Regions from separate parts of the Homo sapiens genome. Here region 2 is linked to region 1. The links come from fine-mapping of genetic effects on gene expression. A gene starts in region 1. The other region holds a variant in brackets. All regions are shown on one strand. Distances are between the middles of the regions.

Evidence for each region. PIP is the estimated chance that this variant, and not a neighbour inherited with it, causes the effect. A credible set is the group of variants that fine-mapping cannot tell apart.
Region 2: its variant is the best candidate, but not a certain one, in a credible set for the expression of SEMA3E in lung (TOPMed, PIP 0.52).

What each region holds. Positions count from the first base shown.
Region 1 is chr7:83,646,397-83,650,809 of GRCh38, forward strand. SEMA3E (semaphorin 3E) reads right to left here and starts at 2,743. Exons shown (of 17, transcript NM_012431.3): 1 at 2,032-2,743. The coding sequence starts at 2,146.
Region 2 is chr7:83,527,291-83,531,703 of GRCh38, forward strand. The region is part of intron 1 of SEMA3E (semaphorin 3E); the gene reads right to left. Among named protein-coding and RNA genes, the nearest start is that of SEMA3E, 120 kb to the right of the region's middle. The variant C/T (reference allele first, on the strand shown) is at 2,028.

The DNA.
Region 1 (4,413 bases):
GCCCCTGAGGTGCAGTAGGCATTTGCTGCTTCAGGTAGCATCTCCAGTGTGATCTCTTAACTGACTTTACTAACTAAATTGCACAAGTAGGAACATTCTATTTTCAGGTAACTCTCTCTATTCTGCCTTTGTATAAAAACATCATATTGTGCATTTTCAGCTGGTTCCATTAAATTCAAAGTTAAGGGAAATCCTGTGGGAGTTTTCAGTCTATTGTACATATAGATACTAGCGGTTTTACTCTCACACCATATGACACCACTCATAACATCAGTTACAATTATTTCTTTGAATATAAGTGACATAATAAAGATGAACTCGATAATAGTATTATGCATAACATTTACTTGTATCAGAGAACTTTGGTATTTTTTGATCAAATTATTAACTCTCTTATGAAATATTAAAATGTGACCTGTTGGAAAACACACTGATATTGAACCATGAAAACACAAGTACCCCAATAATAGGGTATAAAATGTTAATACTAGATATAACAGAATTGTAGCTTGCAAAAACTGGCAGCTTATCTACTTGTCTACATAAGAAAAACAATCAATTATATTTTTTTGCATTTTTATTTGTCCATATTCCATCACATCAAATTTGTACATGTTGACATCTTTGATGATAAACTTCTTAGAAATAGGCATTTTGATACATACCATGATACATCTTCCCAAGTTAAAAGATTAGTGTTAATTCTGGGCACTATATTTTAAACACTTTACCAATTTAGTATCAATGGATTTCTTAAATTTATATTATCTACTGGATAGTATTATAGGAAATCTATTTAAACTAAGAAAACATCCACTATTCTAAAAATGAAAAAATTTCTATAGTCAACATTTACTGAAGATTGTCCAATAAAAAGACAAAAAGGCCAAACGTGTCACATAAAATTGAGGACTCCCTTTTTGTTTCTCCTGATAAATATTCTACCTGTACTTAGAAAATACAAGCTTCTGTTCTTTCTACAGTGGGGGACAATTTAAAAGCTTACACAATTGAAAAATGATTCTTATGTAATCCTGAGTATTACATCTGCTATCTGTCTCAATGTGTCAATGGCTAGTGATAATAAATACTTCTTTGCTGACAATTTATTCCGAATTTATATTAAGTCAGCAAAGTCACTTTCTCTGAGCATGGTTTTGTTTATTATTTGTTTGTTTACAGGAGGAATTACCAAACCTATTCATGACTGGCTTGTATTGGTCCTGATGCAAAATCTATCTTTTAATCATTTATTTATGAGTATGATGTTGCTTTACAAGACAATTGTAGAATGAAATATTTAAACATTTGCTGTTAGATCTTCATTAAGGCAATATAAATTTACACTACAAATGCTAGTGAATACTAATACTTTAATCCATATTAGCCATTTTACAAGCATTGTCATAAACTATTTTCCTTTGCCACACATGAAAAAATTCTAATAATCAATTCAACTGGAAAACTAATTTATATTAGTTGTTAATCATTTTAATTACATGATGATGACAGTTATGGGTAGGGCATCATTTTTCTCCTCGGGATTTTTATTTTCTCCTCTTACCTCCATTATGGAAACAAAACAAAACAAAAACAAAAAGAACAAATTGCACCCCTATTTCTATAGCCCTTTCCCAGCATCCTTGTTTCTCATATGCATAAACTGATATTTAAATATCTACTGTTAACTTGGTGGATTCAGCCTCTCAAGGCTATTTTCAACCTGCTTCCTCCCTTCCTGTGTTCCGCGGGCTAGTGAGTGAACTCCTTATTGATAAAATCCAATGTTTACAGACAAAAATAACATCTCTAAGTTGACATGTGATTTTGCACTGTTTTCAGATGAGGTGAGTATGACACATTAATCAGAGGTACTTAGAATTTTAGGTCAGTTTTGCAATAAATTTTTCAGGTGCATTTTAAAGGTCTTTGAAGACCATAAGCCTATGTTAATGTTAAACGACTTTTTTTTTCTTTTTTCTTTTTCTTTTTTTTTTTTTTTAAACAAAAGGATCTGGAAAGGTAACCTACCTTTATGTGACAGGCGTAACCGGGGGTGGGTAGTATCAGCTGTATGACCTCCTGTCCAAAGCTCCAGTAAGTAACCCCACAGGAGCAAGGTGATAATGTGCCCCGCGGATGCCATGCTGCCGTGTTCACCGTCCAAGCCCTCGCTCCTCACTTTAAGGAGGGTCTGAGTTTTACTTAGGACTTCCCTCCAGGGGCAGCGTGCGAGAGGCTTTGTCAGAAATCGAACGCGTTGTCATCAGAAAGCACAGTTCCGAAGTGCCATTTGTCAGGCTGTATTTGGCTATGTAAAACCTTTCTTTCCTCGGGACAGTTGTTTATAAGCCGGGAGCAAGAGGACATTCCAAAGAGTGAGTCTTCAGAGCCATGTCCTGTCTAGAGCGCTCTTCAGCAACTACGCCGGTAGATTCAGGAAGAAGCTGTATTTTTCAGTCACTTGGGCAAAGCTGTTCATTCAGAAAAAAAAAAAAAAAAGAGAGAAAAAAACAAAACCGAGCACACGCACTCCCTTCTCCCGTGGAGGTCCTCTCTTCGGGCTCCTGGAAGCCTCTCAGAAGTCAGCCTCTTGCACTGACTTGCCAAACTGCTAGTTTTAATTCACCTTTCACCTTGCTAATTAAAAACAAGAAGTGCCATTCCCTCTAGGAGTCGCAGGATCCACCCAGCAGGGATGCAGTCTGTCAGTGGCTGTTTACAGGAAAGTTCAGGCAGGGTTGAGCAGCGTACTTGCTGTTTCTAGGAAGTATTTCTGGTCCACGTGCCTCGCTCCCATCCTCCCTCCCAGTCATAACCAGCCCCACGTTACTCAGCAGCAGGAGAGAAGTCCACATTTTGATGGGGGAAATGGGGAGTTCGGGAGGGGTGATGACATAGACTGATTATTTAAGAATAGGTGACAGACAAGGATGTGGCATCAGAAAGCGCTTTTAAATTCTTACCAAGATAAATTGACCTAAGTTGAATAAATCCAACTTCTTTTGAAAATAATCTATTTGTAACCATCCAGAATCCAAATTCTGTTTTTCACTGTTGCCATAAGGTTTTTTTCAAAATTAAGTCTTTTTCTATTGCTTATATCTTAGGGATGTTATTTTTAAACTCTTTTAAGAAAAGTGTGTTTCAAGAGCCTGAAAAAAAAAAGTTCATCTGTGACTGTCTCATAAATTTGATAGAAATGATAAATTATTTACTTAAGCAAATTGGTCAAATGAAATTAAAGGCAAATCCTTTGTCCTAAAGCAATTCCTAAATTTTACTTCAAATTTAGGAATGTTGAAGTAATTTCCCCCAGGTAAGGTAACTGGCAAAGTTGAGATTCACCACCCAAGGGATTTCTATAAAGCAGGTATTAGAAAACTTAGGATGTGCAATACCTTAGGATTCAACTGCTATGGACTTCCAGAGTTGATTTTCCAAGGCACTGTGTTTGTGTAAATAAGCTTAACACAATAGGTCAACTTTACAATCTACCTTCAATCAATCTCAAAAACTAAGCCAAACACTCAGGAGCTGTTGGCATGGAAATGAATGGTATTATGTTAAGATACCAATAAACTTGAATAGATATTTGATTTGATAGTGGAGAGTTAAATGGTAAACACTGATCTCAACTATGATAACTTTTTCTTATTCTGTATTTTAAATGCTAATAGTTAAAAACTTTTTGAGAATTATGTTTTAAAATCACGAAACTATAACAAAAAGATAACATGTGTCACCCTGATATTTTTGCATTATATAGAAGCATATGTACAGCCAGGCATTCTCTACCCATTTTTCTAATCATGAGATGTTCTTGTACAAGCAGAGTATATTTAGCAAAATGTAAATGTCACTGGACATTATAAATAATTAGATTTCCAAGGTCTACAAAAGATAGCAAACTCTAAACATTATTTAACAGTAAAATGACATGAAGTTATTTAGAGACTTTTAACCTGGAATGCTTGCATATTTTAAAAGCCAGTCTGATGAGCTACAGACCTAAAGGTTGCTCTAAATGTGATACATTGTACCTTCAAAATTCTCTTTTGCTTTCTTCTAGGATGGAAACAAATGACAAAATAAATAGCAGCTCTTATATGTGTTATCTAATAGTAGGATTATAGGAAAAGTAAATGTGGTGCCTACACCTTTTATTGCAAATTCATGGCTACTCTCACATAGCTGAAATTCTACTTAAGATTGCATAGTGCCTGTCCTAACTCTACTATAGAACTGAGACAATGTGAGACATTACAATCATTTCATTAGTACACAAAATATGCACCTCTAAAGTGTTGACAAGAGAATATATGTTATGAATGCCAAGATCTGTCTTTGGTTTTACATCTCATCCTTCAGATTAAGTTGGAGCAATTTAGAAGTAAATGCCAGAATAATGGG
Region 2 (4,413 bases), 120 kb before region 1:
TGTTGCTTAAGGCAATTCCACTTGTGGTACTTTGTTATGGCAGCCCTAGAAAACTAATACAACCACCAGTGATCTTCTCCCAAGGCTTTACTCATTCCTTGGAGTAGGTGGACAAATAAGGAGAAAGGAAGTCTAGGCCATCGGCAGCACTATGACCATTTAAGCATTAAACCCTGCTCCTATGGAGTATATGACAGTTAGGTCCCTGCTTCTGCCAACTCCTGCTCAATTATCTTAGGTATTCAAGAATTTAGGTTACAACTACACCCTAGTTGTAAAGCCTCAGATATATATATTCAAAGATATTTATACTTAAACATTGGAAGCTGTAAGTGCAGATCAGCTTTGGGGTTTCAATATTTCATCCTTGAGATTGGCAATTTTCAATCATAATTGGTAGCAAAGACTTCTTGAGCTAAGATAGCATTTTCATGAAGTATTTTCCCAGAATCATATATATTGTCAATATTTACGTAGAATTTTTGTGATTTTTTTTTTGTTTGTTGTCATTAGTGATATTTTGGGAAACAACTTATATCATTTGTGGCAATTAATATAAAAATATTTACACAGTGATTATATTTAAAACCTGTTTTCTGCCTAAAGTAATTGAGTACTTAAACATCTAAGGTTAAGAAAACCAAGAAAAAGAATAAGTTAGTTATAATAAGACAGATGACCTTTTAAACAAAAACGTTATAACCCATGTCTATACATATAATGAAAATGATTATTTGATTTACACTGAATTACTGAACCTATAAAATATATTCTTACATATAATTTTTGTCAGAATTCTTACTATAATGCCCTTTTTGGTAGGAAAAAGTAACTGTCATCTAAGTTAGCCTACTGACAATACTGAATATAAATAAAATTTAAAGTCTCTACATAATATACATTATAAAAACTAATCTTTAGCAAATGAGCTATGAAGCATTTCTAACTTGGGAAACTCAAACAAAAATAAATCTTGAAAAATAATTTAAAACTTGAAATATCAAAAATCACAAGTGTAGCAACCGATATTTTCATCTATTTCTTTGAAGTTAGAATAGAAATACAATATTATCAGGGATTGAATAGGAGCTTTGTTGGAACTGATGATAAGGACTGTTTAAGACTAGCTGGGATTTATGAGAGATCAGACCATGAAAATCGTTCAAGTAGTAAACTGTCAATTATAAGGTGTGGTTAACAAGAGCACGAAGCTTGGCATAGATAAGTAATATTGCCAAAATTTCTTTATAAGTTCAATTTACTATTGATTTTAATATTAAATACTCATTCAATTATCTATACAGGCAAGAAAAGACTGGAAAAGTAAAACCTAAGTCTTCATTATAAAAGCTATTCTTATCCAAATCTTTAATGTTTTCAACATTTTAACTTACCAACTCCACTTGCAAACTATGACCAATAAAATAAAATATAATCTAGTTAACATAATTAGGGTCTCAAATTTTTAATAAATCTTTGAAACAAATACATTTTCAGAAAGAGAATATTATCAGAACAAAAAGGATGCAATAACATTTAAATGAAAAAATGATTTATTAGTGTTCTCTACCTTCAGATAGTCTTTTAGATTTTTTAATGAATTATACTATAAAGGGTTTAAATACGTGAAAAATATGCTCAAGTGGAGAGGTAAATACTTTTTAGATGATGAAAGTGTCATATCTCTACAAAAATCTTCCAGACAAGGTCTGAGCTTAAAAGAGTATTCAAGTTGCCCATTTACCCTCATTATAAGTTAACATTCTGGTAGAGTATTTGAAATCATTCACATAGTAATCATTGGAATGCAACATAAGTGTTTAAAATAGTAATTAAAGAATTTACAACTACCAGGAGAAGCAGCTCTTCAGATGACTAGAAAATTACATGCTTGATAAAGGGGATGAAAGGTCATTTCTACCACGGAGCACTCTAACTTGGCATGCACGTTATGAATAGCATCATGGCCTAAAACTGTACTTCAGTTATTGTGTTAATACATTTGTCCTAGTTTGCCCATGACCTTG[C/T]TTTCTTTCTAAGAGTGACTGATTCATGAAGACATTAACCAAGGTATAGAGGAGTTAATAGCTGTTTCTGTATACTCTTGGTAATTATGGTAATTTGAGCTGCCCGTCAAAAACTAGCAAATATGTTTTATAAAATAAACATAAAAGCATATTGTAAGGAGATTCAATTCCTTATGAAGATTAGATCTTGACTTCCAAAAAATTTACAAACATTTTGTGAACCCAGGTAATCTATGCATACGAAGAGACTTTAATCTTAAAATAGCCAAGAGTTAGATCATTCATACTTGACTTTAGCTAGTCTATCCAGGATATACTGTTATCTGGAAAGATGTCAGAAAAAAGCTGAGCAGAGTGATAGAGACCCTAACCAAGTGGCTGGAATCCATTGAACTGAAATGCTAGGTAGGGATACTAAGCAAAAATCAAGTATTAGTATTCTCTCAATAGTGCAAACTCAACTCTAATTGGGTCAAGCATTTAGAAAAGGAAAATTTGGGCATTCGTATGCCCTTGATTTCTCCCTTTCCCTCCATCTCTCCTTCTCTCCCCTTCCCAAATCTTTATATCGGATTATACTTTCTTCTCTCCATCTGTAGTAAAGCCCACTTAATATTTATTTATAATCTAAAAATTATTACATAAATTATTAAATATAGTCATTTTTCTGTATGTATAAACACATCATATTTGAGTTCAAATTTTACTCAATCATATTTTCTATGTGCTGTCAACTTTTCTAGGCCGTGGGCATAATGCAGTGATCAAAAGAGAATCATTGATGAGAAGGAAACTTACATTCAGTGGGCACAGATCTAGATTTAATGTTGTTGATTGTTTACTATAAGGTTCCTGCTACTACTCTAAGGCCTTTAACCTTGCTTATTATTCATTACAATAACCCTGTGAGTAGGTAATATGATTTTCTCCATTTTATAGATTAGAAAACTGAAGAACAAAAAAATTAATTTTTAAAACGTCTTAAATAACCAGTAGCAGAACATAAATCAAGTATTCTGCCTAAAAATATGTCTTCAGAACCACTTTGTAATACTGCCTCTCACTATAAACAAATATCAGAAAAAACTTTTATTAATGTTATCATAAAAAGTCTTCAGTGCTAAAGTTGATACTACATATATAGGTATTGGTTAAACAAATCACTGAAGAATTTTACAATGGAACAGTATATAGCCATTAAAAGGCAGGAGTAAATTTTATTCATTCTACGTGAAACAATTTCCAATATATATTCTTTTTAAAAATATTCAAGGTTTGGCCAGGCGTGGTGGCTCATGCCTGTAATCCCAACACTTTGGGAGGCTGAGGCGGGTGGATCCCCTGAGGTCAGGAGTTCGAGACCAGCCTGACCAAAATGGTGAAACCCCATCTCTACTAAAAATACAAAAAATCAGTCAGGTGTGGTGGTGCATGCCTGTAATCCCAGCTACTAGGGAGGCTGAGGCAGGAGAATCACTTGAACCCGGGAGGCGGAGGCTGCAGTGAGCCAAGATTGCGCCACTGTACTCCAGCCTGGGCAACAAAAGTGAAACTCCGTCGGGGGAAAAAAAAAATTCAAGGTTCTAGATAGTCAGCAGACATGAATTTGATGTAGTTTGTATTTTATAAAGTAATTAATATTTTATAATTTATTTTATACATCACACACAAAAACACATACGTACATTTTCACATACACACAGACATTTTCCAATAAAATTACCAAGGATTATTTTTAAGAAACAGAATGTAGTATTTGCAATAGCATGAAAAGTTTTATCTTAGTACACATTATCAATAAAACATATTTATAAAATAAAATCATCTTGCCCTAATATGTGCTTACCATTAAAATGACTCTATAATTAAGCATCTAAAGTTAATATTTTATTTGTTCAAGTATAAATATTTATTTCTACTTTGTAAGAAAATCAAACAAGGAGTAAACAAGTTGGGAAAATTCATAGTTTTTTTTTTTTTAACAAGTTATTTGTGTGCATGTGTGCTTCTTGATTGGAATATTCTTTTTTTTTTTTTTTTTTTTTCCGAGATGGAGTTTTGCTCTGTCACCCAGGCTGGAGTGCAGTGATGCAATCTTGACTCACTGCAACCTCTGCTTCCTGGGTTCAAGTGATTCTCCTGCCTCAGCCTCTGGTTCCAGAGTAGCTGGGATTACAGGTGCGTGCCACCATGCCCAGTGAATTTTTGTATTTTTAGTAGTGATGGGGTTTCACTACGTTGGCCAGGCTGGTCTCGAACTCCTGACCTCAAGCGATCTGCCCACTTTGGCCTCCCAAAGTGCTGGGATTACAGGCGTGAGCCACCGTTCCCAGCCAATTGGAATATTCTTAATAGAGACATCTTCAAATATCCATATTTTTCTTTC